Regions from separate parts of the Homo sapiens genome. Here all the other regions are linked to region 3. Evidence: fine-mapped expression QTL. A gene starts in region 3. Each other region holds a variant in brackets. All regions are shown on one strand. Distances are from middle to middle.

The links.
Region 1: its variant is fine-mapped to the expression of EPB41L4A in spleen (GTEx, PIP 0.99).
Region 2: its variant is fine-mapped to the expression of EPB41L4A in adrenal gland (GTEx, PIP above 0.99). The same link has a PIP of 0.9 or more in atrial appendage.
Region 4: its variant is fine-mapped to the expression of EPB41L4A in tibial artery (GTEx, PIP above 0.99).
Region 5: its variant is fine-mapped to the expression of EPB41L4A in whole blood (TOPMed, PIP above 0.99).
Region 6: its variant is fine-mapped to the expression of EPB41L4A in whole blood (INTERVAL, PIP above 0.99).
Region 7: its variant is fine-mapped to the expression of EPB41L4A in substantia nigra (GTEx, PIP above 0.99). The same link has a PIP of 0.9 or more in spinal cord.

What each region holds. Positions count from the first base shown.
Region 1 is chr5:111,505,593-111,510,042 of GRCh38, forward strand. STARD4 (StAR related lipid transfer domain containing 4) reads right to left here. Exons shown (of 6, transcript NM_139164.3): 2 at 1,737-1,850; 3 at 738-787. The coding sequence starts at 1,841. Among named protein-coding and RNA genes, the nearest start is that of STARD4-AS1, 4.4 kb to the right of the region's middle. RefSeq lists an enhancer at 3,592-3,711. The variant A/G (reference allele first, on the strand shown) is at 2,030.
Region 2 is chr5:112,122,756-112,127,205 of GRCh38, forward strand. No RefSeq gene overlaps it. Among named protein-coding and RNA genes, the nearest start is that of EPB41L4A-AS1, 36 kb to the right of the region's middle. The variant A/G (reference allele first, on the strand shown) is at 2,004.
Region 3 is chr5:112,417,417-112,421,866 of GRCh38, forward strand. It overlaps EPB41L4A (erythrocyte membrane protein band 4.1 like 4A), which reads right to left and starts at 1,861. Exons shown (of 23, transcript NM_022140.5): 1 at 1,525-1,861. The coding sequence starts at 1,623. EPB41L4A-DT (EPB41L4A divergent transcript) reads left to right here and starts at 2,167. Exons shown (of 1, transcript NR_027706.1): 1 at 2,167-3,562. RefSeq lists a silencer at 2,526-2,615.
Region 4 is chr5:112,282,306-112,286,755 of GRCh38, forward strand. All of the region lies in intron 2 of EPB41L4A (erythrocyte membrane protein band 4.1 like 4A), which reads right to left. Among named protein-coding and RNA genes, the nearest start is that of SNORA13, 120 kb to the left of the region's middle. The variant G/T (reference allele first, on the strand shown) is at 2,403.
Region 5 is chr5:112,547,961-112,552,410 of GRCh38, forward strand. No RefSeq gene overlaps it. Among named protein-coding and RNA genes, the nearest start is that of LINC02200, 78 kb to the right of the region's middle. The variant A/G (reference allele first, on the strand shown) is at 2,449.
Region 6 is chr5:112,499,505-112,503,954 of GRCh38, forward strand. No RefSeq gene overlaps it. Among named protein-coding and RNA genes, the nearest start is that of EPB41L4A-DT, 82 kb to the left of the region's middle. RefSeq lists an enhancer at 4,116-4,450. The variant A/G (reference allele first, on the strand shown) is at 1,790.
Region 7 is chr5:112,474,273-112,478,722 of GRCh38, forward strand. No RefSeq gene overlaps it. Among named protein-coding and RNA genes, the nearest start is that of EPB41L4A-DT, 57 kb to the left of the region's middle. The variant G/T (reference allele first, on the strand shown) is at 2,276.

The DNA.
Region 1 (4,450 bases), 910 kb before region 3:
ATTGTCTCCTCCTATTGATTATTCAGGTTTATAATTTTTAATATTATAAATAATGCTGTGATAGAAGAGCAAGTACTTAAATCACTGTTATCTTTCTGATAAATTCTTCAAGATAAGTTCCTAAGATAAAATGTTCTACAGCACTGAGTAAATGTAGAATATTAGAAGGGTCATGTATACAATGCTAAGAAATTCAGATTTTAGCAGTCATTTTATATCATTATTTATGACCTCCTCACCACCAACTCAGTCTACAAAGGACACGGACATTTTTAAGGCTCTGAATTCATAAGCCCAATTTGCTTTCCGGAAAGTTAAAAAAAAATCGCCAGGTGTGGTGGCTCATGCCTGCAATCCCAGCAATTTGGGAAACCAAGGCGGGATGTCAGGAGCTCAAGACCAGCCTAGCCAAGATGGTGAAACCCCATCTGTACTAAAAACTACAAAAAAAGTTAGCCAGGCACAGTGGCAGGTGCCTGTAATCCGAGCTACTCGGGAGGCTGAGGCAGAAGAATCGCTTGAACCCGGGAGGCAGAGGTTGCAGCGAGCCGAGATTGTGCCACCGCACTCCAGCCTGGGTGACAGAGTGAGACTCTGTCTCAAAAAAAAAAAAAAAAAAAAAAAAAGTTAAAGAACTCTTAAAAAGCTAAATCTTACTAGCAATGACTACTTAGTGACAATGGATATAAGTTTTGAAATGTCTTAAGAGCTGTGTAAGTCTATAAAAAGTTACTTACAGATATCCATTAAATTCTTCTGAGGGTTTTCTCCAAACAGTTACATCTTTCTAGAAAAATAAAAACATTATATGGTAATAATTGCATAGGTGGAACCCTAGACACAAAACTGATAATTTTATAAGTCTATAGAATTTGTCTTTGCATTAAAATAAAACCAGTACATTTTCAGAATACATAAAAGTCATCTATACCATAAAAGGATTTGTATTTGAATTTCTTCTGTATCCTAAAGTTCTTCACATTGTACTTAAATTACAGACCTCCAAAGAATATTTTCAGTAGTATTTAATGATATCCAAACACTGTAAGATTCAATGATGGCACTATCTTAGTCCAATCTTATCTATTTACCATTACTGATGCATTCAGACTCTAACACTAGGAACACTATTTCATTCTGACATTGTTCATAACTTTTAAAAAATTAAACAATTCACATTTATTACGACAGTGTTAACATGAATTTGTCCCTACATTTTTTCCTCATCATTTCCCAAGTAATTCTGAATATCAGAATAGCTAGAGCACTTAACTAGAAGTGTCCTGGGTTCTAGAATTAGTTCTAGCAACACTCAAGTCACCTATGTAATAGTTTGGGCAAGTCACATTAGTAAAAAGGAATACTAACTAGCTACCTTCATAGGCTTTTTGATATACCTGAAACTATTCCAAACTCTCAAGTACTACACTTTCTTAAATTAATAATGATACATTTTATTTGCTGACTTAAGAGGCCATTCTTTAGGTTCTAGTTGCCATGAGCCTATTCTCTTGTCTAATATCCAAAGAGCTAATGAAAGCAGTATAGGATTACCACTGATGCATTTCTTCCTCTGTGTGACATTAGACTATCAACTTTATTAGCTCAATTATTTTTCTTGCATATCCATCCAAAGTATGGTCTTTGTCCATATTGTTCCATTTAATTTTAAAAGTCATCAACCAATTCATTAGATAGAAGATATACCCCAAATATAAGTAATTGAACTAATTTACCGTTTTCTTAGCAACTCGCCACTTATCTTCTTCAATGCTATGGTACTGGATGAGAGTGTTTTTAAGTTTAGTTGCAAAAGAAGCAACATCAGACAGGCCTTCCATTACTTCTCTCTGTTATGGAGACCAAGATTAGCATCAGCAAATACCACAGTTTGAGGCAATAGGCCAGTGGGTCTCGAATCTGGTTTCACAATATAATAACCTACCAGAGCTATAAAAGATAGCTACCCTCACCCCAAATCAACTAATCATAATCTCTGAGAGTAGGACCCGGGCATAGTTTTTTTCTA[A/G]TTGCTCCCAAGATGAATAACCCATAGCCAGAGGTGAGAATTACATATTTTTTACAATTAAAATCACTCATACAGAAAGTAGAAGAGAAGACAGGAGGAAGGGGAAGCAATTGTATCTCATATATAGATATGCTGTTAACTCTCAAACATTTACCTCCAGTCCTCTTTGTTTCAATGAGCTCAAAAATCCCAGATCCAGAAGCCTACTTAAAGCTTCAAGCCTAAAGGGAATCTCTTGCCTCCCCTGGCTTCCCTCAATTTGTCACAGTATTCCTCATTTTAACAATTTACTATTAAAATGGCAATTGAGCCCAAGTTCTCAAGTCAAAAGGCTTGGAATTGCCCTTAATAAGAATAGGTTCCTTTTAACACCATCATACCTCATTGTCTACAGTATTCTACACTGGTTTTCTTTCTGTCCCTCAAACAGGCTAGCTTATCGCTGACTTGTGGTCTTTGATACGGCTAGATCCCAAATCTTAGCATCACTAATAACAATGTAATGCCAATTTCAGTTTAAACCTCCTATCCTTCATAAAGCCTTCTTAAGTTACTATTACATCGTTATTTTCTTCATAGTGCTTATCATTATCTGACAATATAATAACTTATTTATAGGTGTATGATTCTACTCTTTGACCACCTCATTCCTAACTAATAGCATAGAGGTCCTTTTCTTATTCACCACTATAACTCCACCACCTAGAACACTGCCTGGCACATAGTAGGCCCTTATTTTGTTGATATGTTATTGTCTCAAAACAAGAATTACTTGGTCTTTGTCTTCTTTTGGTGCCAGGGCACCAATTTCTTAGCATAATTCCTACTTTTCACTATTCTATCTCTATTCCTCCCATCTTCAGTAAAAGGCTAAAGAAGAAAAGAGTTTTAGGGGTAAAGTTGCCCATTACAGAACCATCAAATTGCTGGAAAGGAGGTCAAGAAAACATCTAAATGAAATCTCCTAATCTAAATGAAATCACCCTCTATGGGAATAAGGCTGCAGTTGTCAACTATGGATGCACACATCAGAATCACCTTTTTATGCTTTGTACTAGTTGTCGCTGCTTTTAGGTGTTAGATTTTAGGGCCCAGTGCCAAATAGTCTAATTCAGTGGCTTTGTTCTGGAATGGGCCTCAGAAATGTAGGTCCTTTAAAATAGTCTCACTAATTATTCTGTTGTCTAGCCAGAGATCAGAACTAACTGATCTAAAAATTAAAGTGACAGAAATAAATTAAGGTTGTAGCCAATATTTAAATACCACTAATTAGAGCATATAAGCCATTAAAATTTATAAATACTAAAATTATGTAGAAACATGGGAAAGTATACAAAGAAAATTCAATATAACTTTTAGGATCTATGTAAGTGATGCAAAATATATAATAAGTATAGATCCAATCCACGGATGAAAAGTTGATGAGCTCATTCAAAAAGTCTCTCAGTCAAGAATATACCTAATTTCCATTCAAGAGGCTGTCAACTTGATAGCCAGTTCAATAACTTTATTCAAGAGTATGCCACAAACAAGCAGAAGTTCTTGCAGAAGGCTTGTAAAAGAGATTTAATTTATCTATTACAGGGATCACTATGATTAAACATATTCTTTAAACCCAAAGGTCACCTGCTAGGTTCCTGTGGTTGGCAGATAAGAGTATTTATGCAAAACTTTTTGATAGAAATCAAAGGTGAAACAGAAAGTTATTATTATCATAAGCAAACATTATCACTGGGCAAATCCAGTGCACGGAAAGTTACCTAGAAAGCTAGCTACCTAGAAGAGATGAGAATCTGCAACTTTAAGGTACTTGACTTAGTAATTCATACTGATCAGTATAAAGTTCAAGCTCCTTACTATAGCTTACAGGCCCTTTTATAATGTGGCATATTTTCATTACCTAATTTCCACTTATCTTTCCTGGATTCCCCTGAACCTGGGTTAGTTCCCCCTCCAATATTTTCTGACAGCAACTCTGTACTGTAATTATTCACTTGTTATCTTCTCCCGTTTAACTGTAAAATCTTTGGGGGGTAGGAAATCTGGCTTGTTCAATATTAATTCTCCTTACGTCTAGCACTCAGTAGGAACACAGTGAATAAAAAATGGAAAAATGTATAGACAATAAGCTACCATTCTCACTTATGGAAGACCTCAAGATATCTAAAGTATGCCCATTTACGCCAATCCTAGAGCTTCTGAATAACTAAAACTTCCTTTACCATAATGAAACACCATTTCTCAAGAAGGACTACTATTAAATATTTATCAAGCATCTATTATATACCAGGTCCTAGAACTACAGAAACAGATGGAATTCAGATTTTACTCTCAAATTGACTTATTCCACCCTTAAGCTTTAACAGAAATAACAACAACAAAAACTAAAACATTAAAAAATTCTATTAATAGCCTTTTTAA
Region 2 (4,450 bases), 290 kb before region 3:
GAGATGACAGCTCTAAGAATACATATACATTCACTTTTTGGAGTCCCCCCAGATTATTTCTACAATTTGGAAGAATTGTAGAAATGATGAAATGTACAACAAAAATCACAGAGGTGAGAATTAGTCCCCGTGGGTGTGCTGCGATTGAATATAAGAGAGAAAGTGATAAATTTGGAAAAGAGAAGAGGAAGCATGTCTCTTTAGGCCACAGAAAATAACATACAAACTAGGGAAGAGCGTAGGAAGCGTTTTTCTCCTACTTCTTGCCTCCCACAGGAAATCACTAATACTTTCTGAGAAAAGGGATAAGCTGTCCAGTTTCTACTTATTAATGAAACAGCAATTTCTAGACTTAAGCATATTAGTGAGCACTGTTCTTTATAATAGCTCCAGAAATTTCTGCTTAGGAACAACGACAACAAAAAAACACCACCACCTGAGAGTAATCCCCATTGTTTCTAGGGTAGACTCACCCTAATTTAAGTGTGACTCAAAAGTGTGACTCTAAAGAACTGCAAGCAGATTAATGTAAGAAACTCCTGCTAAAACCCTGCTAAAAACACTCCAATATAATGTAATCCTCCTTATCCATGACTAATTGAAGCAAAATGGGCAGCACACAGAAATGTGTGCTTTCAAAAGGAGCATGTTAAGCTTGAATGTGACATACAAGCCTTTTCGAGAACCTTTACTAGACACAGTTGAGTGGAGGTATTGGTTCCCCCATTTCCCTTCATTTGCCCTCTTCTGAATGTGACCACTGTGTAGGAAGAAGGTCTAGCCCCTAACAGATCTTGGTCTGGCGTCCTTAATCCAGAGCAGCACTTTAAGGGGCCAGGTCAATTATCAGGGAGAAAAAGGCGAGGGCATCTTCCTTCCACTCTCTCCTCCCCCAAACTAAACCTTACTTTTGGGATTGTACCCAGAATTAACCTGGAAGCCCAATGATCACAGCAGACAGACCTAGATTTGATCTGACAATAATCCCCAGGATTGACCACCAAGCTAATTTCCATCTCTAGAATTTCACCACCCACCAGCCTTCTCCTAAGTCATTTTCACTAGATAATAATGAAAAACATTCAGATCTCTAGCACAATCGCATTTTCTGATTCAGAGGAGGAAACAATGTCACTAAAAGTCAGAAGGTATTTACAGAACTTCTAATCTCATCTGTCCCCTATTAACAGTAATACTTGATTCTTTATGTAGTTCTGTGTTTAATAATGCCTCCAGAGAAATAGGTTCTGATCCATTTGAAAATTTTGGAATTATTGTACAATCTTTTTTAATTATTTAGAGATCTTTTCCTACATTTGAAGGCTTCAAAACAGTAGAAAAATATGTTCCCATGAAACAGCATATATTCAATATACTACCATGCCGAAATTTTGGGAAGGGTGTCGGCTTGTATATGTGTTATAACCTGAATGAAAAACATGGCTACGTGATTTAAAATATCTAACTTTCATTACCACTTGGTGTGCAAGGAAGGCTCTGAAGGATCTGTTTTCCCACCTCTGTTTTCAGATCCCCACTCTCCACACATTTGCAAACTCAGATCGCATTGTTTTCTTCACATGGAGGAGGGGATATGTCCTCCCTGGTTAGCATTTTGACCATCAGAAGACTAGGATCACTACGTAACTGATTATCCATATGTTTCTTGCCTGATAATTAAGATTTATATTTTTGCATGAAATCTCAATAATCCAGAAATGCCATGTGACATTAAATATTTCTGTGCTCTTCTTTCCTACTTGTTATGAATTGTGTCCCCATCCCCTAAAATTTATATATTGAAATCCTAATCCCCAGTACCTCGGAATGTTACCATATTTGGAGATAGGGTCTTTTCGGGGATAATTAAGCTATAATAAGGTCATTAGATTGGGCGCTAATCCAATATGACTGGTGTTGTAAGAAGAGGAAATTTGGACACTGACAGAGAGGGAAGACAGTGTAAAGATACGAGGGAAAAACGGTCATCTACGAGCCAAGGC[A/G]AGAGGCCCGGAACAGATTGTTCCCTCGTGGCCCTCAGAAAGAATCAACCCTACAGGTACCTTATCTTGGACTTCTAACCTCCAGAACTGTGAGAAAATTAATTGCTGTTGTTTGATCTACTCAGTTTGTGACTTTATTACGGCAGCCCTCGCAAACTAATACACCCACCAAAGGAAGAAGAGTGCAGGAAGTTTCAAGATGCCAAAAACACAGATTGTAAAACAGTAGGAAATGGGGAAGTTCATTAAGATGACACGTGGGAGCCAACAGGTTACATAAGAGTACAACTGTTATGCACTCCCCATAAAGGAAAGGATTAATTTTAGGTCCTGCTGAACCATGTAAAAGGTGTAAATTAAAGAAAATTATCTCTCTGACCCTAGGCATAAAGGAAAAAAAAATAAGAGAACTTGTAAATATAAAGTAGAAAAAGAAATCTGCCATATTGAAAGTATATAAGGGCATTGAGTTAAAATAAGTAGTCCTAACATTTAAATATGTAAGACATTTTAAGATCTTTGAAGTTTCTCAGTGGCAAATCCTAGGATCTCCTTATAATGCTGAAAAAGTCTCACTAACTGACTTACTCTTTGGAAAATGATGGTAAAAATTGTAGATGATTGTAACACTGTGAAACCTAGGCTGACAAATCCATTTCAATTCGATTTATTGAATCATTGATAATAGATTTTTCCTAACATAATTTTTTAAAAAATGAAATACGTAGCAATTCCCTTATCATTAACACTGATATAAATGACAACCTGGAACAAGTCATTGATTAATTCTGGCCCTCTGCTTCCTCATTTATAAAGTGGAAAATATATATATATAGGTTATAGCTACATAAATATCTGAGATATTCAGGTGGAACTTTTCATCTTCTTAGGTAAGAGTCATTAGAGGTGGCACAAGCAAGGGGCACACAACATATGAGTTTTATTTTTGCTGTAGTCATTCTTATTGTATCATCCTGCTCACAAAAATAAAGAAATGTACCATCTAATGTTTCATACAAAAAAAATCATTTATCTGTCATTCATGTTGTAGAGAAATTTGAATTCTCTTAATCATCCATTGTGATTTTGTCCTAAAGCATCAACCTTATCATTGGTTTTCTATCCATTAGCCAGAATATTAGGTTGATTATTATCCTCCAAGCACACTCTTTGCCAAGATCTACCATTGTTTTTCATTAGCCGAGGTTCTGGAGGGAAGGAGATAGAGCCTATATAGATGATGGATGGGGTTAAGAACCCAAGGACTAACAGGATTGTATAAGAAGCTACTGCTGGGTGATATATGCACATGTTGGAGTAATGCTCACTAAAAGTGAGGAGGCAGCATGAAGCAGTTGGCAGGACAACAGGCAGCCTAAATTACATCATTCATTTAACAGGTCTAACATATGGCAACTATTAAATCTCCAAAACAAATGCAAAGCTAACCAGCGCTCTCATAGAAAAGACACTTTCATTCTTGATTTTTCTAATAAAATGCTTCAGTCTAAGTTACTGCCAATTTCAAAACAATAATAACATATATTTCTAAATCCAATAACAATATAGGACTTGCTAAAATACTAATAGCCATCTGATAATATATAAAATGTTAAATATTCTTGTTTTTATATCTTTCACAATTTTTTTCAGGAGCTCTGTAGGAATAATTTAATGCTTTAAAGCAACAATTAGATTCTGTAATACATAAATCAGCTCATAATTATTTTCAGAATGAAGGACCCACAAATGCATTATATTAAAGCTGGCCTTTGCTTAAAACAAGTGAAACACATCTTCAATTCTGTCATTTTCCAGTTAATCTCACTTGTGATGCAAAAAGCATAGGAGAAAACTCCAGTGATCTTTTAGGGAAACTAATTTTACTCTTGTTCTACACAGTCTTCAAATAATTACCCTATACCCTGATGTGATTATTACACATTGTATGCCTGTACCAAAATACATCATGTACCCCAGAAATATATACACCTACTATGTACCTATAAAAATTAAAAATTAAAAAATTAAATTATTTTTAAAAATAATAATTACCCTAAGCAGGAAACAAGAGAGACAATAAAAGAGAGCAAGGCACAACACACTCTTACTTCATGAATAATCGTTGGAAACTTCTTATTGTACTTAGGTAAAACTCTTCATCTAAATAGTGTGTCTTCTGGTTAGCTACCCTCAAAAGTCTCAGGTCCTCTGTGAATACTCCAGAAGAGTGAAGGGCCTAGGACTACTGGACAAACAACTTTACACCAAGATTCAGACTCCCAGAAGTTAGTGCCTTCCTCACCGTCTACCTATTCTATGCTTTATCCTTGTCACTTCCAGGCTTGACCCAAGTGTTTTTCTCCCTAGTCCTTTGGATTTAATCCCATCCAGCTTAGCCCTTTGCCCTTTGATCTGACTTTTCCTTTCATCCTACCTCCCATTTA
Region 3 (4,450 bases):
ATCATCAGTTACCTTTTTCTAATTGTTTCTATCTCGACACAAGAATCTATATATTATCTACAATTTAGGATGTTTTTGTGATTTTTGCCTATTTTATTCATACAGTACACCAAAGAATGTTACATCATCTTGTAAGTTACAATATTTTCCTGATTTCATTGGGCGGGTGAGAGGAGAAATATTTTGGAACATAAAGAAAAGTTAAAAATACAAAATGTACACCCTCCCCGAAAAGAGTCTATTTTATTGGTCTTGAAAGGAAATACCGAATGAGAATCGAACTGAATTTTGCTCAGTATAATTACTGGGGAAACAATATTCAAAACAACCTCCTAAAGGAAAGGGTTAACAATCTTGTAGCTTTAACTGATTATTTTTGCTCCTTTCTCCCGCAAAAGAATTACACCTATGAAACTGGAATTCTGTACACTAAGAATGGCAACATTAACGCTGAAACTTTTAGCCAGGAATAGTTATCCTAGTGTGCATAAAACTATGTAAAAACTGATTCACAAAAGGAAATGCCCAGGGCCTACCCCATTATGATTAACTTCTGAGATGAAGCGACTAAGAGAGGATACTTGGCAGCCTGAACTCGATTTCTCAGAAAGCCAGCTCTATCAGAGCGGGGGCGGGGGGGCGGTTTCCCTTCACCAGACTCAGCTGTTGCCTTATCTAAAATGCCTTAGCGATCTAAAACTGAAAGAGAAAGATAAACAAAACAACAAAACGCTCCGGATTTAGATCTCCTTTAGGTAGTTAACACTGTTGCAAAAGCAAAACAAGCACGCAGGCGCGTCGGTCAGGTTGTCACTACAAACATACGTACCTTCTCATCCAATGTAAGGAAGAGGATCTCTGCGAGCTCTGCTGCCTTTTTGTTTGGGCTCTCTAGGTTAATGTAGTGATTGCATTTTAATGACCCACAAACAGGAGCAAAGTTATTACTGGGTCGCTTTGAGAGATGTTTACTTAAATGTGAGGATAAACCCAGGTCGCTGTAGAAAGGGAAAATATTTTCCGTCCAAACGTAGCATTACCCAACTACGAACCCACGCAAAACAATCACAATGACCCATTAATGCGTTTCAACGAGTGAACTAGTTCACTTCCCTAATAACACTGTCAAGGAAAACGCCTTCAACAAAGTCGAGGGAAACCATGCCTTCCACACTGGTGGGACGCAGCTGGTATAACCCATTCTGCCCCTCTTTGAGAGCTGCGGGGCACCCAGAGGCTTTTGGAGAAAACCGGTTTGGGGAAGAGTTTTGGGGTGCTGCTGGGAGCCGGTGTGCTGAGTAAACTTAGAAACGTCAAACTCAACTTTGCTTTATGAAGGAACTCAAAGTTAACTCACCCTGGTACGTCCACCCTCTCCCTGCGCGCAGGGGACAGCGGCCTCTCCTCCCCACCGCGCAGAGTCGCGGCCGCCGCCCTCGACCCACCGGTGACAGCCCTCAAAGCGATGGACCCCCGCACCCGCCCTGCCGCCAACCCCCGGAACGCGCTCCGGGCCGCACCCACCTTGATGCCCTGCTGCTGGGTGGTAAGGGTTAACTTGGATTCATCCAGGAGCAAAACTTCGCAGTAAAATTCTTCCGGAACAGCGCAGAAACAGCCCATGTCGGTTGTGGTCGTCTCCAGCCAGGAGAGAAAGCTACCACCGAGGCGCCCAGCCGCCCCCTCCACTCAAGCGCGATGCATTAATTTATTGTCCGCGCCGTGGCGAGGGTGAGACGAGCAGCTCCCGGCGGGGTCCGGGGACCGGCCGCCGAACCGCCCGGCGGGGCGGGAGCGAGAAAGGCGGAAAAGCCCGGGAGAGTCAGCGCCCGGGAGCCGCCGGGGAAGCGCCGGCGGAACTGGGCGCGGAGGGCGGTGGCGCGTCCCCGCGCATCCTGCGGCTCGAGCTCCTCCGAAGGCGGGGGCGCGGGGCCCCTCCCGCAGTCCTGGGGACGACAAAAGTCTCCTGGCACTGGGGGCAAGAGACCAGAAAAAGGAGTGATGGGAATTCGAGGCTCTCCCCGGCCTTGGAAAACCCTGGAAGCGCTGCACCTCCCTCCTGCCGCACGGATTTGAGCGCGGCCCCGACGTCCTGGCGTCCGATCGGCCTGCGGAGTCCCCCGCGGGCGCGCACTTCCAGCCGCGACCCCGCCCCGCAGCCCCGGGTCAGATCCGCCGAGTATGAAGCGCTCGGCTTTTCTTTTGTGTGAGGAGCACCCACGACGCCCCGACCATGGGCGCAGGGGCAGAGGCGAAGGTCGTCGCTCCGTCCGCTACCCCGTCCCCCAGCCGCAAGCGCCGAGGAGCCGGAAGAGAGGCGGAAAGGGCAGCAGGCTCCTTACCCAGACCAGCGAGGGGAGGTCAGCTCGTCGCGGGGTGTGGCTCCCGTCCGGGGACTCCCGAGCTCATTACGGGTGGCCGTGTGTAGCCAAGTTCAAGCTCTCCCTCCGGGAATGCCTGCCGCGGCGGCGGAATACGGCTTCTTCAGGACATTCAGCAAAGCGGGGAGGCGGGGACCTGCGGGCGGAGGAGCGACGCCCCAGCTGGGAACGCGGCGGACGGGCGAGCGGGGGGTGCGCCCTGGGCGCGCCAGGCCGCAGAGGCTCCGGGGAAAGTTCTCTTGGCCGCGCGAGTGGTGGCGCCCCGGGCGGGAGCAGCCCAGGTGCATGTGGGCCCGGTCCAGGCGTCTGCAAAAAGCCCTGGAACGAAGCGGACCCCCCAGTCCAGCGCTGGCCGCGGCAGGGGAGCCCCTTCTGGGCGGGGTATCAGCTGGGGGCGGAGGGCGGGGCAGAGACCGTGGTCCCAGCGGCGAGGTGCCGGCGAGTCCACGCTGCCAAGCCGCACACTGCGCCCAAGCCGCGGGGCAGTCCAGCGCTCGCTGCGTCCTTCCCCCGAGAGACCTGGAGGCTGGGTGGGGAGAAGAGGACGCGGTGCTGCTCGGACCCCACGGTTCGGCGGTCCCAATCCCACGCCCTCCGCGCGGTCGGCCGCGTCCAGGACTGAGGGGCACAATAGCTCTGAAGCTGCAGTGACCCCTGGTGGGTCCCGATGTCCGTGCACAGGCAGCCGAGGTTGAGCTGCGGACGACACTGAGCCCCGCTGGGCTTCGGAGCAGGTGCAATCTGTGCTCTCCAGCTGGGAACCAGCAGCGAGTTAATGCGAGTCGCAGTTAGGGGAGACACGAGGGGAGGTGTCACAGAAAAAAAACTCTATATTGAGTTTTAGAGTTAGAGCTTTGGCATCAGACGTAGTTTTGAGTTGACTATTCTACTGCTTGTTAGCTGGGTAGCCAAAGCTCAAAAAAAATTGCTTAAAACCTAGGACGTTAGCCCTTAAAACAAAACCAGGCTTCCGTAGCACAGTAGAAATGAAATGAACAATTGGCGACTTTTGATGGAGTTTCCTCTCATAGTGATTTGCCACAAAGGACCTTCTGTAGGAAGCCTCGGCCTTCCCTGCTATTGTGACCCCATCCAAACACAGGATCAGCATAACCGCCAAAGTGCAATATAAATTTCTGAACTTTACCTAGGCTATGAATAAAACTATTTTATCTTCTGAATTTTCTGTGAAATTGACTCAGGTTTTGAATTTCTGATCAAATTTCGTGTCCAGCTTTGTTTTATTGTCAAAGTCTTGCCTGCCTTATGAGGTGACACCTTATTATGCTAGATTTTAGCATTTCTGCTTGTAGAGGCTTTTCTTTTCTGTAATACAGTATTCCTGACAGGAGTTACCAAATGTGATTGAAAGATGGCTTAACATTTTCATTCTTTACCTCCATATCCAACCGAGACACTTGAGGCTGCAAAAACAAAAGGTTCAAGCAATCATCTGTTCCCAGTTTTTTTGAGTTTTGCTCTCACCTGTTTTTTGGCCCTTTGATTTGGTTTTTTTGCTTTCTGATTTTTGGTTTTGCTGTTGTTTGTTTTTGTTTTTTTACCTCCAGTGGCAGTGAGAAGGCTGAGGGTTTTGGATGGGCAGGGATTCTGTTCCCAGCTCCTCATAAGGTAAGTTACAAAGCCATAAGGTCCCATACATATGACACTCTTTCCTGAGTGAAGCATTTTCTTTTCCATTTCTTTATCGGAGACTGGAGAAAAGAACATTTAAAATCTATTTAACACAAAATTAGAGATTACTAGTGACAAGAGGATTCCACAGAGTTTCTAAGGATAGCTTTATTGCATATAATTTACATACAGTTCACTGCATAATTTTTAAGTGTACAATTTGATAAGTTTTGACATAAGTGTGCACCCATGAACCCACCACCATAATCAAGCTAGTACACATATTCATCCCTCCCTAAGGTTTCCTCCTGCACTTTGTCATCTTTCTTTTTTTTTTTTTTTTTTTTGAGACAGAGTCGCGCTCTATCAGAGTGCAGTGGCGCGATCTCGGCTCACTACAACCTCCACCTGCCGGGTTGGAGCAATTCTCCTGCCTC
Region 4 (4,450 bases), 140 kb before region 3:
AGGTGAGGGGACTGTTTCTTGCCATTCATGTTAAACAAAAAGGTTTTACTATCCCCTGAATTTTCCAATGAAGAGAAAACCAAGGAAAACAAACGCAAATACTCATTAACACTTGCATTCGGTTTCCACTGCTGCCGTAACAAATTACCACAAGCTTAGAGGCTAAAACAACACCTGTTTATTATCTCAGAGTGCTGAAAGTTAGTGTCTTTCTTTGCTTCAAATTTCACAAGGCTAAAATCAAGATGTCAGCCTGCTGGGGTCTTGGAGAGCTGGTTGGTTAGGGGACCGTATTCCCTAGAGCACAGTAAGGGAGAGGGCTTATGGATGCGTTATTAGAGGCTCTCCCAGTTTCTCCAGGTGTCAAGGCACATGTAACATTGGGATTTAATTTCACGCCCTACGCTACACTTACACATGAAGTGTCAATATGTGCTTGTGGCAAGAAGGGAAAAAAGGAGGCTTTGGTCTTATTACTGTCTGTCTAATCTTGTTCTGAAACTAGTAAGGGGCAGAAATCAGAGTTTTAAATTTCTCCTCCTATCATCATCATCATCCCAAAAGACAACCTTTGTAATTTTTTTTCAGATTTTTTGATTCATTTTGTTTTGTTTTGTCTTTGTTTCCTTGTCTCCAGAATGCTTTTCAGTCACTAAAGCCAGCTAAAGAAAATAGGAAGAAAAAATTTTAACTACATATAATGGGAAAAACTGGTTAATCTATCAAAAATTTTACATTAATGATAATCTGTTCTATTTTAAAATAAATCTCTTTCCTTGAGAGTGATTAAATTTGAGAGGTGAAAAAAGTAAAATAACAGTTTCAAGAAAAGTTAGAAATTACAATTCTGCAGCACGAAGCAGCAGCAGCAAGACTCAGTCAAAGGCTATTCAATCAACTCACTGCACATTTGCTATGCTAAGCATCACCCTAGAGCCGGCCACACACAAATCTCATTTGATCAAAATGGAAACCAGGGGTTACAGAGGTCAGACAATGATAAATGCCCAAGAACATAAATAATAAACACAAGTCACCAGGTTTCAGAAGCCAAGATCTTGAAATGTAAAACCCACTTACGTTCAACCAAGGGAAAGATGTGACCTTGGAACCAAAGCAGCCATGCTATGATGGCACTTGTCACCATTCATTATCAACAAGCAATCAAACAGAGCACATGGAAGATCAGAGTGAAACACAGCAGCCTGTTACTCTATAGTTTAAGAGAAAAAAGGGCACAAAAAATTGCCAATGAACACAATATCCCTGTTTTAAGGAATACATCCAGAATACTGGTCATGGAGTGCCAATATTCTAGAGGTAGACTCTAAAACTGGGATATCATTCATTCATTCATCACTTATGGATATCCACTATACATGTTCTTTACATGACATGTCAGACACTGTCCTTAGTATGGGAACACAAAGTTGAATGAGACCCGTGACTAACCTCGCACTCACAGCCCAGCAGGAGACACACAGCCATGTAATTACAATACAATGTGGTGAGACAATAATTACTTATATAAGATGAATACATATGAGATAATAAAATCATGTACAAGGAAAATTAACTGCAGGGTGAGTATACAATGGCTTTACTAAAAAAATCGTTAAATAGCATGTTCAAAAAAACTTTCTCAAAATACATAAATGGGAGATAACAGAGCCTTAAATCTGTATAAAGTACATGTCTATCAGCTCAACTGCTCTTAAAGCAAGTGAGTAAATTTCCATGTAATAACACAGAATGTAATACTCTAAGTCCTTTACAATTGAACACCCTATTGAAGTCAGTGTTGCCTAACAGCTAACAAATACTCAGCTAAGCAATCAATATTCATGGAGAACTTCCAGAAAGGGAAGTAGTCCATTCAGTCTTTCCACCTGCCCCACGTGAGGGGAAAGAGGAGCAGAGAGCTGAGAATCATGCAGTGTGGTGCCCTAAGAGACTGTTCTTTTGGAGTCTCCTAGAGTTCTAATAGAATAAACCCTAAATTTTTTTAAATAAAGGACAGCATGCAATAATTGGAGCTGTGCTGCATCTTATTTCACACTGGGTCCAATGTTGATTCAGAGAATGGTTTCTCTGAATTGTACCCTGGTGTGCTGCCTCTTGCATAGCCAGATGGTCACGAGGAGAAATAGCCCTATCTCTCATTCCCTCTCAACATTCAAGCTGTCCATTCTCTAGGATAATCACTCAAACACTTTCCCCTTCCCCACTCCCCTCTCTCTCCTATTTCAAATGTATACTATGCAGTCTGTATATGCTGACAAGCTGGATGAGATCCCATTTTGTAGGAAGGTAACAATGAACCCAAACAGACCCTGCTCTCTGATGTCGCACAGTCCACTCCTAACATACTGTATCCTAAACACTCCATCACTGAGGAGTCA[G/T]GGTGACAGTCCTCTCGGACTCTGCCCCTTTGCCAGAGTAGAAGAGGTAAAGCAGTTAGACAGCCTTACCACTTCAGGCCTGTCAATCTTAATCACAGCACTGATGTAACCCGGAGAGCAATGACAGACCCTTCTTACTCTCTGACAGTCCTGGCTAAATGCCCTTGGCTGCTTTCATCCACCTTGGCTGATAACTTCTCAATTTCATCAATTTCCTTGGTAACAGTCTCAGAATTAGGTTCTGAAACTCTAATAGTGCCCAGCCAATCAATATCCTAATCTTCAAAAGATATATATTAAATTCGGGGTCCAACCTTTCATTTGTCAACTGTTCTTTCAGAGTCTCCTAGAGTTCTAATAGTAGAATAAACCCTAAAAAATTTTTAAAAAGAAAGGACACCATGAAATAATGAGAGTTTGCTGCATCTTATTTCACCCAGAGTCCAATGCTGACTCTCTTTTGGAGAACTTAAGAATGTTACATTGACATTTAATAAAGTTTCCTGTAGGCCAAATAAAAGGACTTAAAAGCACACACAGTTTTCATTAATATAGCAAAACAACCTCTTGATCTAAGAGAGTAAAAACAGAGTTGGTCATGTACCATTGACAACAGAGCCACAAAGATCTCAAAAGTGATATAACAGGTCACTCCTGGGGAGTTCTAGGACTCAACATAATTCACATATATGTTTCAAGGAATCCAGGACTTAGGTTATGGCTATTTGTGCTTTTCCCACTGACCCTGTAAACAGATCTATGGCCCTCTAAGCAACATCAAGAGGACATGGCTTTAATTTGCTCCTTCATATGAGTCACAGAAGCCTTAGGACCTCAAGTAAAACCACCATAATAGAGCTATCTTGCAGTGGCGACAAAAACAAGGGCCTGTCACTGGAGTGATCTACAGGGAGGGAGAGATAATTACAACTGGCCCCGTTTTTCAGCAAAAGTGAATTTCAAGAAATCTCTGATGGACCATGTGGCTTCTCATAAAGTGTCACTGGCCCTGGGAATATTCCTCATTTCTCATCCATGGACCCTGACACCACTCTAAGGTTACAGAAATGCAATAATAACAGCTAGCATTTATTAAATGTTTGCAATGTGACAGGCACTGTTGAGGACTCTACATGTGTTTACTCTTTTAATCCTCTTAATAACTCTAGGAAGAACTATTATAATTACCATTTTATAAATGAGGAAACTGAAACACTGAGTAAACAACTTGCCCAAAAGTACAGAACAGCAGCTCCAACGAACTGAAGCCATTCCATCTTACACTCGGGCCAAGCTACTTTCTAAAATATTGTCTGAGAAGTAATGCACAACTTAAATTTCAAGATTCTTACTCTCAACTAATACTCTTCTCCCAACTCACTTTAATATTCTGACTCCACCAAGACACCCAATTCATTGACCCTACTACCTTTTCATTGTCCCTCGCTGATGCCCCCAACCAATGTCATTTCCCTCACTATTCATTATAATCATTCACTTGCAAGTGTCCTCAATTTCCTTGCACATCCTTGCTTCCATAATATCTACAGGAAAAAAAAACACCCATGGGTAACTCCAATTCCCCGCATTCTCCATGCTAGCACCCAAGGAGCTGAACATAACTGGAGGCTCACATTGCACAACCATAGGTGGGCTTGCTTTACATTCATTAGCAATAACCCAAGGGAACCCTTGGTATCACGCAGAATCCTACATTTTATTCCGTCATTCTCCTTAATAATTCTTGACACTTTCTCCTCTGTCCTTAAACTTCCAACAACTCCTTTCCCTTCCTCACTCTCAGCTGAAGATCTTCATTACTTCACTGAAAATGGAAACAATCATAAGAGAAATGCGTATGCATCCTGGCCCCGTCGACCAACCTGCTTGCATCTGAGCTTGTGTTCTGCCTTCTCTCCTGTTGCTGTGGAGGAACTGTCCATGTTCCACTTAGGCTCATCCCTTTCTCATCTATTCAGGAACATGGTTCCAGCAACCTTCTGTTCTCTTTCCTGCATCATGAAGGTTTCCCTTTTGACAGAATCATT
Region 5 (4,450 bases), 130 kb after region 3:
ATTGATCCTGAATACCAAGAACAAATTGTGTTGTGTAAACTAAAAATAAAATCCTACCCTGCCCCCGCCAACCCTGGCCTCTCTACTGAGAACAGACTCTCTTGTAGCTGAGGGGACCCCAGAAAAAGCTTAAAACTGAGTTCCTGACCATCATGGGACAGCAGGTCAGACTACCTCATTAGACCTCCTTTTATGGCTTAGACAGAACAAGTGACCAGCCTAAATGTTAAAATAAAGATCATAAGTTTAACACAACAGACTCTTGGTGACAATAAGATACCAACATATAAAAAGGACCTAAGGCCATGTCAGGCAAGAGTTAAGTCACGCATCCCTACACTTGAAGAATAATCTATGTTCTAACTGCCACAAAATTTTTCTTTTTCTCCAGCAACTAAACAAGCACTGGCCTCAAGATAAGCACGATTAAAACAGTCACAACTCATCCAGCTCACAGACGCTGACTCACTGGACTGTTCCACCAGCCATAACTACAGTTTTCACTGGACAAGAGACTGACTTCAATAACTTTCCCCAGATAAGAAAACCACCAACCCTGGACTGGTTCTGGCCAGTTTACAAAGATTATGCACTTGCATCCCTTCATGTCTTGAAAAGATCTTTTGAAGTACAGGGCCTCATTATAATACACTTAAATGTTGCATCTCCACCCCAAAGTGAACATGGGTTTTATATTACTTGCATGTTTGTTCAAGACGTATGCATCAGGGCCACCTTCATGAATATTCACAGCTCCTCCTGTAACCTGTTGAATATGTATGTTTAGTCAACCTGTTCAGTATAAAACTTATACCCCAACCCCTCCTCCTTCCAAGTGCCTGTTTCTGGGCTCCAGCCAGAGGCTGTACTTCCCAGTCTGAAGGATGGCCATCTTATAGGCTGTAACACTTTAGATGAAATAGTCTCTTCTCCCGTTCTAAATTTATACATCTTGTGATTTTTAAGTTAACAGTTGCTACTGCAAAATGAAAGTAGGGAGGACCATGTCTCAGATGCTGGGGATTTTCTGGGATGTATCTTAGTACTTCCATGAGTAATAAAGTTAATGGAAAATTCCAGCAATTAAAACAAGAGACAACCACTGAGGTCTCAGACACTTAGGAATTCATTCCAACATTTATTCAGGAATTGATATTTGCATTACCCCTAAATACTGGGGCATGATAAACTAGCATCATCACTCCCCTTAGAACCAGCATCATCATACCCCCTAGAGACCCCAGCACCAACCAGTTAGCACCTCTCCTTGAAGGTCACGGTCCTACCTATTCCCTACCAGGGGCCACCTTCAAAATCCTGAGGCAATAGTACAATGCAATGACCCTCAACCCGGTCTCAGAGGTTTCAGTTTCAGCTCTGCGGGGCACCACCTCCTTCAAGCTTCTAAACTTTAACAACTCCAAACTCTTTCATGTATTCACCCAGTTCTAGAGCAGTAACTGCTTCTACGATTTCTGCCTTCTCAGTGTTTCCTTTCTGCCTTTTCATTTCTTGAGTACTTGATTAAAAAATCTTTACATGAAATCTCCCTGTTCAAATAATCAGTGTGATTTCTGTCTCTTGACTGTACAGTTGATCTTCCATAAACCCTATGAGATTATATCCATTTTTCAGATGAGAAAACAGACACATAGAACAGATGAGTAACTGGACCAAGGCCACACAACCAGTACAACACAGGAATAGGACTTAAACCCGGGTATTTCTCATTCCAAAGCCCTTGTTCTTTTAAACACTGCACAGTTCTGCAAGATGAAGGCAGATCTTTTACATTGTTCTCTGACCTCTTCTAGCAATGATACTGGTATTCAAATTAGACTGGGTGGAAACAAGGTAGGTCATGTAAATGCAAGAGCGAGTGCACCTGCAGCTTTAAGAGAATATATGACACAGGGTCCAAGTGAATTATCTTCCAAAACACTCAAGTAGCCTGCAGACATGATTGGAGATACTGTAGTAATCTCCAAGAAAACATGAGGAGCTTCTGGAACACTGAGATAGTTAAATATTTTTGCCTTTAGAAAATAGATATAGAGATATTTAGTCTTGACATTAAACCCCAGGAAAAACCTAGGATGACCCTGTGTGTACTTTTAACAAAAACTGCCTGTTCTCTGGTTGGACACATGGGATACATTCTGGAGGGACATCAAGAAGTGCTGCTGCCACCTCCAGCCAAGGGCTGGGCATGGGACTCAAGCCAATCGGATACTCTCTCCTTAAAATGTGATTCTTGATCAGAGAAACAAAAGACTAAAACTATTGTTGCTGAAACAGTAGCAGTACCATGAAAATACTGTTCATTAGTTTCAATTGCACATATTCACCTGAAAGTTACAAGGAGAAGACTATAACTTCTTTATGTTCAGGGACTTCATGTTCAGAGTTCATATTGTTAACCACTAGATCCAAAGTGCCCAGCACAGT[A/G]CCTGGCATAGAGTAGGTGCTAAATAAATATCAGCTGTGTGAATAAATAAAAATAATAAAGAATTTCCAACAATTTAACAATGCAATTGTTATATCATGAAGTAGTGAGTTCCTTGTCACTGAAGAGATTAAAATAGAGCCCATCTCTCAGCATGACAAAAAAAAATTCCTGCATTGAGTAGGTGGTCTCCAAAAAGCATTCTACTTCTGGCTTTGTAATTCCACAACTATTTCTTATTTACTCTTAAAAAACATATTTTAAAGTAAAAATAGAACACCATATTCACACAATATACAGAACACAAACTAGGTGGTCGGGACAAGAGATATATGACATTTTTTCAAAAGTAGGGTAGCATTTCTTCACATGCTCACAAAAAAGGCCAGCAAAAGCTGTTGCAGGAGATGTAAACCATCACTGGACTTGTTTGCAGTGACCTACACTTGATCTATTTCTAGTCTCAAGGAAAGCGAAATAAGAAAATGGATAGTTTGGTTGCCATGGTTATTCCCAGCCACCAGCTCACCTCACCACCCATTTTCCATCATTTCTAATAACCTAGTTTCCCAGAGTGATACTGTAGGAGCCAATAACCCAGGCTCTTTATTAAATGGTTTCCCCTGGTGCCACCCTCATCCAGCCACTTTTTACAGCTTTCCTTTGTCTCACCAGTCTTCAGCATGGCTCAGGAATGAAAAATACTCACCTAAAACTACCAAGATTTTTCAGTGCAGGGAAATCTTGTGCTTGGTTGCATCCACTTAAGATTCTGAATGGTTTATGTCTTCCTGAACTTTAAGGATAAATTCCTCTGTGGCCAAGGGGAAAACAGTTGAGATGGTGGGTTGCTATTTTCTTTAACATTGATTTTACTTACTTTATAATCAGCCTACTTTGCCTGGGAAAGGAAGGTGACATTTAAGAAAACAGTCTGGAGAATGTGCTATCTGGTGAAACTCAGCTAGACAGCTCTCTTGGTTGTTTCAGATTTCTTTAGTAGCTAACAAAGACAGTAGCTCAACTTTTGGCAGAAGCCCATGAGAATGGAAAGTATCCATTTGGAGTCTCTTAGGAGATACTTTGTGGGAAATTGTGCTTCCTTGGTAAATTCTGGTCTATATTACAGCAGGCTGTGGAAGTGTGGCTTTCTATACACACAGTTTTTTAAAAGGTATTGCTGGTGACACAGATCTACACATCTAAACACTAGGGGGCAACCTTGCCTTTTGTGTCACCAATCAAAGCCATTTTACAGAACCATAATATTTAAGGAAATACATGGAACCATCAAATCTCAGCCTTCTTCTTCACCAGTTTTATTTTAATATTGGCATCCAGATGTTACAAACGGCCAAAGGCCATTCTTAAAAGCAGATCCAAATTAGGGGAGGATTAAATGTATATAGACTTGAGTTTTTCATAGCATTCACTGGAAGGAACATCAGCAGCCTCACAACTGTTAGAATTCCCTCCCGCTCTGGGTGTGGACATTCATTGATTAAACGTTTATTTCAGGCAGCGGGGATTCTCTGGTGAACAAGAGACAAGGTCCTTGCTTTTGTGGAGCTTGCACTGAAGTAGAGGAGACAGATACTAACCAAGTAAACGAAAATAATTTTAGGTAATAATTTCAATGAAAAATAACACCGTAATGGAATAGAAATAGGGCATGAGGGGAAGAGAACAGTGCCAGGAAAGGCCTTAGAGAAGCTGGCATGTGACCTGAAGCCCAGATGAGAAGGAGCCAGCCAGACCAAGGGCTGGGGGAAGAGTGGTCCAGGCAGAGCGAAGAGCAAGTGCAGCAGCCCTGGGTAAGGACAAGCTTTGGGTGTTTCAGAATAGAAAGAAGCCAGTGTAGCCAGAGCATGGAGAGGGGAGGGAAAGGTGGGATAAAATGAGGCTGGAAGACCATCCGGGTTCAGACCACATAAGGACTGGTTGGCCAAGGAAGGAGATGAATTGTATTCTAAGTTCGATAGAAAGCAGTGGAGGAAGAGTCCA
Region 6 (4,450 bases), 82 kb after region 3:
CTTTGGAGACCATGGCTCTCCACTGGTTTTATTTCCATATGGCCAGCAGACTCCCAGTCCCAGCTCTCCTTGAATACTGCTGGAAGGCACCTGGGACTTTGATTCCCTGTCCCATCCTATCAAGGAGAGGACAGACCAACTCCCATGGAGAGGGAGATGGCTTCTGGGCCATTTAGACCTTCCTCTACCTTCTCTACTGCTGTACCCTGTGGCCTCCAAACTACCTGCCCCTACCTTATAGTTTTGTGCTTATATCACTCCAGCTTGGGCATCAAATTACCTGTGCTGTTTTTCTCTCTAGATCACTTCTCTGCAAATACTGGTGGATGCCTGGAACTTACTTTAAAAGGCCAGTAAGTAAGTGGAATAAAAGTACCCCAGGATGACTAAAACTATCAGACCAGTGCTATGAGCATGATCCTGTTTCCTCACACTCTGGTTTAAGCCAGTCTCCCTTTCTAGAATGAGAGTGGCAAGACAACTGGGCTAAAGAATCAAGTCCCAGACCTCTGTCCCATCAGGTTTCCTGAGGACACTACCATGTTGCCATAGCTTCCTGGCATGGCTTTTAGACAGCACTTATTTTTTAATAGTTGTATTGATACATAATCAATGTCCAATAAATTACACATATTTAAACTACAGGATTCAATATGTATACATATTCAATTTGTGTGACATATGTATAGACCTGTGAAACCATCACGGTAATCATGATCACAAACATATTCATCATCACCTCCTGCTCCTTAGCCCCACATTCCTGCACAGGCCACCAGTGATCTTCTTTATGTCACTATAGATTAGTTTGCATTTTCTAGGATTTTAGATAAATGGAATTATACAGTAATGTACTCTTTTTTCCTGGCTTATTTCACTAAGCATAATTATTTTGAGACTCATCCACATTGTACTATATATTGATAGTTCATTTCTTCATATTTTTTAGCAGTAATCCATTTTATGGATATATGACTATTTGGTTTTGCATTCACCCCTTGAAAAATATTTCCAGTTTAACTATATGCTGTGAATATTCATGTACAAGTCTTTTTATGAACATATTCTTTCATTTTCCTTGGGTAAATGTGTAGGATTGAGATGGCTGAATCATCTGATAGATATTATGTTTAACTTTTTAAGAAACTACCCTTATTTTCCCAAGTGGTCATACCACTTTATTTTGTATTTCTGTCAGCAGGATATGAGAGTACCAATTCCTTCACCTTCTTGCTAACATTTGGGGTGATCCATGTGTTAGCTCCTATGGATGGTGTAACAAACTACCATCAATTTGGTGGCTTAAAAGAATAGAAATATATTCTCTCACAGTTCTAGAGACCTGAGGTCCAAAATCAGTATCTGAAATCAAAGCATGAGTGGGGCCACACTCCCTCTGGCAGTTCTAAGGGAGAATCTGTTCCTTGGCTCTTCTGACTTCTGGTGGTTGCCATATTCCTTGGTTTGTGGCTGCATCACTCCAATCTCGGCTTCTGTAGTCACGTTGCCTCTTCTGCAGGTGAAATCTGCCTCTTCCTCTCTCTTGAAAACACTTGTTGATATAGACAGGAGGCAGCCAAGGATTCCCTGGCAAAACCCTGCCTTCAAGTCTAAAACAGCCTGAAGGCTGAAAAACCAGACTGCTAACCCTGGAGAATCTCCCACTGACCTGTGCACTGGGAGGACAGAGTGGGGCTTTGGGAAGTTCCTGCCATTTGCAATGGGGAGGACTCTGGCCCCTGCTGTTCCTGTGTGGTAACCTGGAATTTAGTCTATGAGATGGGGCCCT[A/G]TTAATAGGAACTCCTATCGCTTTGTTGAGAGTCTTTTTCCTTTTTGCCCAATAAATTACATAACACCTCACCCCTCAAAGTGTCTGTGTCCCTATTCTTTCCTGGTTGTGTGACAAGAACCCAGTTTTTCTTACAACATTATGGTAGCATTTCAGGTCCATCCAGGTAATCTCACACTTAATCACATCTCCAAAGACCTTCCCCTCCTATTTTTTTGGGGAGAGGGGGGCATATAAGATAATAGTCAGAATCTATGAATTAGGACTTGGCTATCTTTGGGCAGGAGCCATTCTTCAGTCTACCATAGCCAGTCTTTTTAATTTTAGCCACTCTAACAGGTTTGTAGTGGTATCACATTGCTTTTAATTTGCATTTCCTCAGTGAGCTAACAAAGTTAACCTCTTTTTATGGGCTTATTTACCATCTGTATATCTTCTTTGTTGAAGTATGTGTTCAAATCTTTTGCCCATTTTTAAATTGGGTTGTTTGTTTTCTTATTTTTGAATTTTGAGAGTTCTTTATCTATCCTGCATTTAAGTTCTTTATCAGGTACATCATTTGTAATATTTCTTCTAGATTGTGTCTTGTCTTTTCATTCACTTAACAGTGCCTTCTTTGACAGCATTTCTTGATTTGTATCATCATTCATCCTTTTCACACTTTCTAGATTGAGCCCCTTAAGGGCATGGGCTACAAATTATTTCCTCTACACCTTCAGCACCCAGCATAATACCTGACACATAGGAGATACTCACTGAATGCTATTTTTTTCTTCTCACTTTACTGCTCTTCCCTTTCATAGGGTCATATTTAAAAACCAAATTTTTTTTATATTAATAGTAAGATATTTCAGTGTGCTCTAGTCTGCAGCTTATTTTATTTTACATTTATGGAGATATGATTCGCAAATGACAAAATTTACCCTTTTAAAGTATAAAATGTAGAGGTCGTTCCTATGTTTATAAAGTTGTGCCGCCATCACCACTATCAGAACATTTCATCATCCCCCCAAAAAATGCCATACCTAGAATTCATGCCCCATTCTTTTCTCCCCCATCTCTCCCACCAATTTGTTTTCTGTCTCTTATGGATTTGCCTATTTTGGACATTTCATATGAATGTAATTATACAATATATGGCATTTTTGTGTCTGGTTTAATTCTTTTAGAATAATATTTTCAAAGTTCATTCATGTTGTATCATGTATTAGTATTTCATTCCTTTTTATAGCTAAGTAATATTCTATTATATAGTTATACAGTCATGCATCACTTAACAGTGGGGACACATTCTGAGAAATGCATCGCTAGGCAATTTCACCACCATAGGAACATCAGAGTGTACTTATACTAACCTAGATGGGACAGTCTACTACACACCTAAGCTACATGGTATAGCCTATTGTTCCTAGGCTACAAACTGTATAGCATGTTACATTACTGAATACTGTAGGCAATTGTAACAAAATGGTAAATATCCATGTCAGGGTTCTGAGCCTAAGCTAAGCCATCATATTGCCTGTGACCTGCACTTATACATCCAGATGGCCCAAAGTAACTGAAGAATCACAAAAGAAGTGAAAATGGCCAGTTCCTGCCTTAACTGATGACATTCCACCATTGTGATTTGTTTCTGCTCCACCTTAACTGAGCAATTAACCTTGTGAAATTCCTTCTCCTGGCTCAGAAGCTCCCCCACTGAGCACCTTGTGACCCCCACCCCTGCCTACAAGAGAACAACCCCCTTTGACTATAATTTTCCACTACTTACCCAAATTCTATAAAACGGCCCCACCCCATCTCCCTTTGCTGACTCTCTTTTCACACTCAGCCCACCTGCACTCCAGTGAAATAAAAAGCCTTGTTGCTCACACAAAGCCTGTTTGGTGGTCTCTTCACACGGACATGCATGATAATCAGTATATCTAAACATGTTCAAATATAGAAAAGGTGCAGTTAAAATTTGGAATAAAAGATTTAAAAAGGGTACACCTGGGAGATTGCTGGCAAGATGGCCAAATACGAGCAGCTCCAGTCTACAACTCCCAGTGAGATCAATAAAGAAGGCAGGTAATTTCTGCATTTCCAACAGAGGTACCTGGTTCATCTCACTGGAACTGGTTAGACAGCGGGTGCAGCCCACAGAGGGCAAGCCAAAGGAGGGAGGGGCATCACCTCACGCGGGAAGCACAAGGGGTCGGGGAGCTCCCTCCCCTAGCCAAGGGAAGCCATGAGGGACTGTGCCATGAGGAACAGTGGACTCCAGCCCAGATACTACGCTTTTCCCACAGTCTTCTCAACTGCAGACCAGGAGATTCCCTTGGATGCCTACATCACCAGGGCCCTGGATTTCAAGCACAAAACTCGGTGGTCATTTGGGCAGACACGAAGCTAGCTGCAAGAGTTTTTTTTTTCACACCACAGTGGCGCCTGGAACACCAGCAAGACAGAACCGTTCACTCCCCTGAAAGGGGCTGAAGCCATTGAGCCAAGTGGTCTAGCTCAGCGGATCCCACCCCGACAGAGCCCAGCAAGCTAAGATCTGTTGACTTGAAATTCTTGCTGCCAGCACAGCAGTCTGAAGTTGACCTGAGATGCTTGAGCTTAGTTGGGGGAGGGGTGTCCACCATTACTGAGACTTGAGTAGCCAGTTTTCCCATC
Region 7 (4,450 bases), 57 kb after region 3:
GGCTTTACTAATACTTGCCAGAAAGATGTCAGAATACACAAATCTCCCACTTCGTCAAGAATGGGTCCTGTGCCCATCTCCTCCAGGGGCACTTTCTCTCCAATTCATCCTCAAATCCCCCCGCCGCCCACTTTTTTTTTTTTTTTTTGGCACCTCATAAATCTTGGACCTGAGTTTCCAACTCACCGTTTTCACAATTAATTAACTAGTCATAAAGAAGAACCTGAACTATGTGCTCCCATCCCCAACCCCAGGTCTAGATCTTGTAAAAGACTGACCGGCAAGGTCACCTTTACTGAGCTGTGTGACACAGATGCTTCGAACAAACTGAAACAGAGAGGACTGCGTATGTGGTATGTGGCAGCTTTCCAGTGACTCTTGAGTGCAAGCTTTAGAAAAGAGGCTGAAAGGCTGGGTGTGGTGGCTCACGCCTGTAATCCCAGCACTTTGGGAGGCCAAGGCAGGCGGATCACAAGGTCAGAAGTTTGAGACCAGCCCAGCCAATATGGTGAAACTCTGTCTCTACTAAAAATACAAAAATTAGCCGGGCATGGTGGCGGACGGACGCGTATAGTGCCAGCTACTTGGGAGGCTGAGGCAGAAGAATCGCTTGAACCCAGGAGGTGGAGGTTGCAGTCAGCTGAGGTTGTGCCACTGCACTCCAGCCTGGGCATCAGAGGGAGACTCTGTCTTAAAAAAAAAAAAAAAGAAAAAAAAAAGAAAAGAAAAGAAGCTGAAAATGGGGGCTGGGGTTGGGGGGCACAATGGCAAATTAGTTCAATCCACCCTAAGATATATTGTTGGTTTGATTTTGTTTTTTTCTGCACATCATTTTCTGAAGTTTGAATCTGAATGCTTTAGGACTTTAACCACTCATCTCAGTTGTCATTATACACAATTAATTAATTAAGAAGTAGATTCTGCTATTAAGACCAAGACCCAAAGTACCTGTGACTTCAATAAAACAAGAGTTTGTTTTTCTGTTATGTGACTGCCCAAGCATAAGCATTACAGAACTGGAATAATGGGTCTGTGGTGTGAGGGACTCAGGACCCTTCTATATTGTTACTCACCTATCTCTAAGGCATTGTGCTCATTGGAGTGGTTGAGGGTCACTCATTACCACTTACCACCAGGTATAGATTGCAGCTGCTAAGTAATAGGGAAGGGGAAGTGGGGTGGGGTGGTGGTGGTGGTGGGGTATGTCCATTCCTCATCATGGTACATTCCAGAAGTTACACACATCATTTCTGCAAATATCTCATGGGCCAGAACTGTGCTTCGCCCGGTTGCAGGAAAGCCTGAGAAGCATGGTGTGTATTCTGAGCAGGACTCCATCACTAATATTGGAAGTGCACCGGTAGCCTCTGCCAACCTTTTACCTGCTCAGAGTTTCCTGAGAGAACAACATAAGTGACTTTTCTTATTGCCCATCACAGGCCTACCCAGTACAGGTATCCCCAGGTGAATGTTGATTTAGTTTCTCGGGAACAAAAGTGGCTAGTTAACTAATGCTAATCATATACAGCAGTTTTAATGTACTAAAACTATAAAAAAAAAACAAAGGAAAGCAGTGCCACCTTTTGTTTGTCTGCTAGTGGCTGGCTCAAATTTGGCTTCATAGCCTTGTAACTGAACAGAGCAGAGGCAGTGCTCACACTCCTTGCTCGACTCAGAAGCCAACTACAGTCTGCAAAATCTGGTTTTCAAAATATGCAAATTAAGGTCAAACAACCCTACATCTGAGATTTAATGGCTAATCTGTTCAGACAGCTGCTTCTTAGCCATTAAATTACAAGGTGACTGAGTTCATTAAGATTTTCACACACAACTAACTCCTCAAATTGTATCTCATACTTTTCTAAGACTTTCATGGGCAAAGCTAGTCAGATGAGCTATGGTTATAGCAGAAAGAGGCAATCTGTCGCCATTTGTTTTCCAATAGACAAAGAGGCATTATTTTCAGGTTGATTAAAACTGGTCACTCAAGCCAAATTCCAGGATGAGGTCATGAAGATCAGTCACTGTGAGGTTTATTGCCAAAGGCAACTGGGGGAAAAAGAGTCCAGTTTTCTTTGCTGAAAGACATATTGCCAAAATTCAAATTAAACTTTAAAATTATACTACCTTTCTCCATGTTATCCCATATATATTAAAAATAACAAAGCCAAGCACAGGTCCTTAAACGTTAGCCTTATGCGTGGACATTGTTTAGTATTTACATTGGGTTAAATACTAAACGTTGGGTTAGTACCATTGGGTTAAACCAGTCATT[G/T]TTTATTATTTCTGCTGTTCTCTTTCTCTTCTCTGAAAATGGAAACCTATTTATTTTATAAAACTACACTTACAAGCAAAATATTTTGGAACATGTTTCATTCTGCTCATATAATGTACTTAACATTATTATTAAATATTAGAGAATTTTAATAAATGATAACTTCACCACTCATACTTTCTGATATTTAGTATAAACTACTTTATTTCCACCAAAATGTCTTACCAATGAATTAAAATTACTGTGAATTCTTAAAACACCTCTGACTCTGGTAATATAAGCATGTTATAAGAAAATTTCACAAGCTAAAAACAATAACAAAATAGCTCTTCTACCAAGCAAGAATTTGGAATCGACAAAGAGTTTTAGCACTTTGGGAGGCCCAAATGGGAGGATTGCTTGAGGCCAGAAGTTCAAGACCAGCCTGGGCAACATAGCAAGACTCCATTTGTACAAAAAAAAATTTTAATTAGCTAGGCATGGTGGTGTGTGCCTGTAGTCCCAGCTACTTAGGAGGCTGAGATGGGAGCATCACTTGAGCCCAGGAGGTTGAGGCTGCAGTGAGCCATGATTGTGCCACTGCACTCCAGCCTGGGTGACAGAGTGAGACCCTATCTCCAATTGCCTTTAACACTTTTTGTTAAGAGACAAGGTCTTGCTCTGTTGTCCAGGCTGCTGTGCAGTGCAGTGGTACCATCAGAGCTCATAGCTCAGTGCAGTCTTGAACTCCTGGACTCAAGAGATCCTCCTGCCTCAACCTCCCAACTAGCTGGGACTACAGGTGCTTGCCACCACACCCAGCTAATTTTTCAAAATTTATTTTAAGTTTTTTTAGAGATAGGGATCACACTATGTTGCCCAGGCTGGTCTCAAACTTCTGGCCTCAAGAAATCATTGTGCCTCAACCCCCTAAGTAGCTGAAATTACAGGTGCAAGTCACAGCACCTGGTTCAATTTACTCCTAATGTAGCATATATAGTACAAATTTAAGGAGCAAAATGAACTAGCATTGTTTGAACATAAACACGAGTCATTCAAGGTGAAATAATTTATTGCTAAAACCATGAATTGTTAATTTATGAGCTCATGATTTTTTTAAAAAGTGATCAGCGTTGGACTAAAACTGTCTTTTCTAACCAGTATGACCTTGAAATTCACAGGGCAAAAAAATGACTTTAAGTTGTAATTAATAAAAACCAATTATACAATGAATTATCGTGAATTCAAAAGGAAATAATTATGAGGCTTTAAGAAGTTCAATTGGTTCTTAGAATATAACAAAAAAAGCTTGAAAACATTTGAAAAAGTTCTATCTACTTGCTTCATTATTTATAAGTGAGAAAAACTGTCAGTAACCTAAATATCTTTTTATATGGTATGCTTAAAATGTCATTAAATGCTGCACTCAAAAGAATATGAAATATTAATAACATGGAAAATTATTACAATAGAATTCTAACTATAAAAAATAAGTAATCAGGTGTTTTTCCCTCAAAGGAATAAATCACTGATCTGGGAAAATAATTTTGATTGTCATCGATAGAAACTGCGAAACACCCACATTTGATGCCCGTGGCCCCGTGCTGTAATTTTAATAGTGAAATGTAGCAATGTAAACCTCGATTGAAATTTTCTCGGGTGGCATTTACTTGAAATCCATGCACGTTAACAACTTCTCCTCCCAGTGGGTCCCCAGGATCCTAGATATGACAGGTTTGGTAATGAGCTGGACTCTGTGGGATGCAGACGAGAAGCACCTTCATTTTTCTTCACTTTGATCATTAGGTATCTTCTGTCAGATCTCACTGCTCTGCCTCTGGCTGACAGCTTAGGCATCTCTCCTAGATTTCCAGTCCCTTTCAGATGTTAAAAGGTTTTCTTTTCAGGCAAAGTATTAAGAAGTCCAGTGTGATAACAATGAAAACTTTGATCTCTCTGGAGTCTCTCCCCCGCCCTCCACAGACCAGGAGTGGGGAAGGGGGTGGTCTCCTCCGTATCTTCACAACGCCTCCATGTGGCTCCTCCACTTTTCTTCTCTCACTCACTGTGCACCCTTTTGGCTCCTCCAGGGTTAGAGGAGGTTGGCAGGGAGAGGACAGGTAAGGGGGTAAATAGGTTTGACTCAATGGGTGCTGTTGTAACCTGGTGTTACTGACCCCTGCATGGCAGATGTGC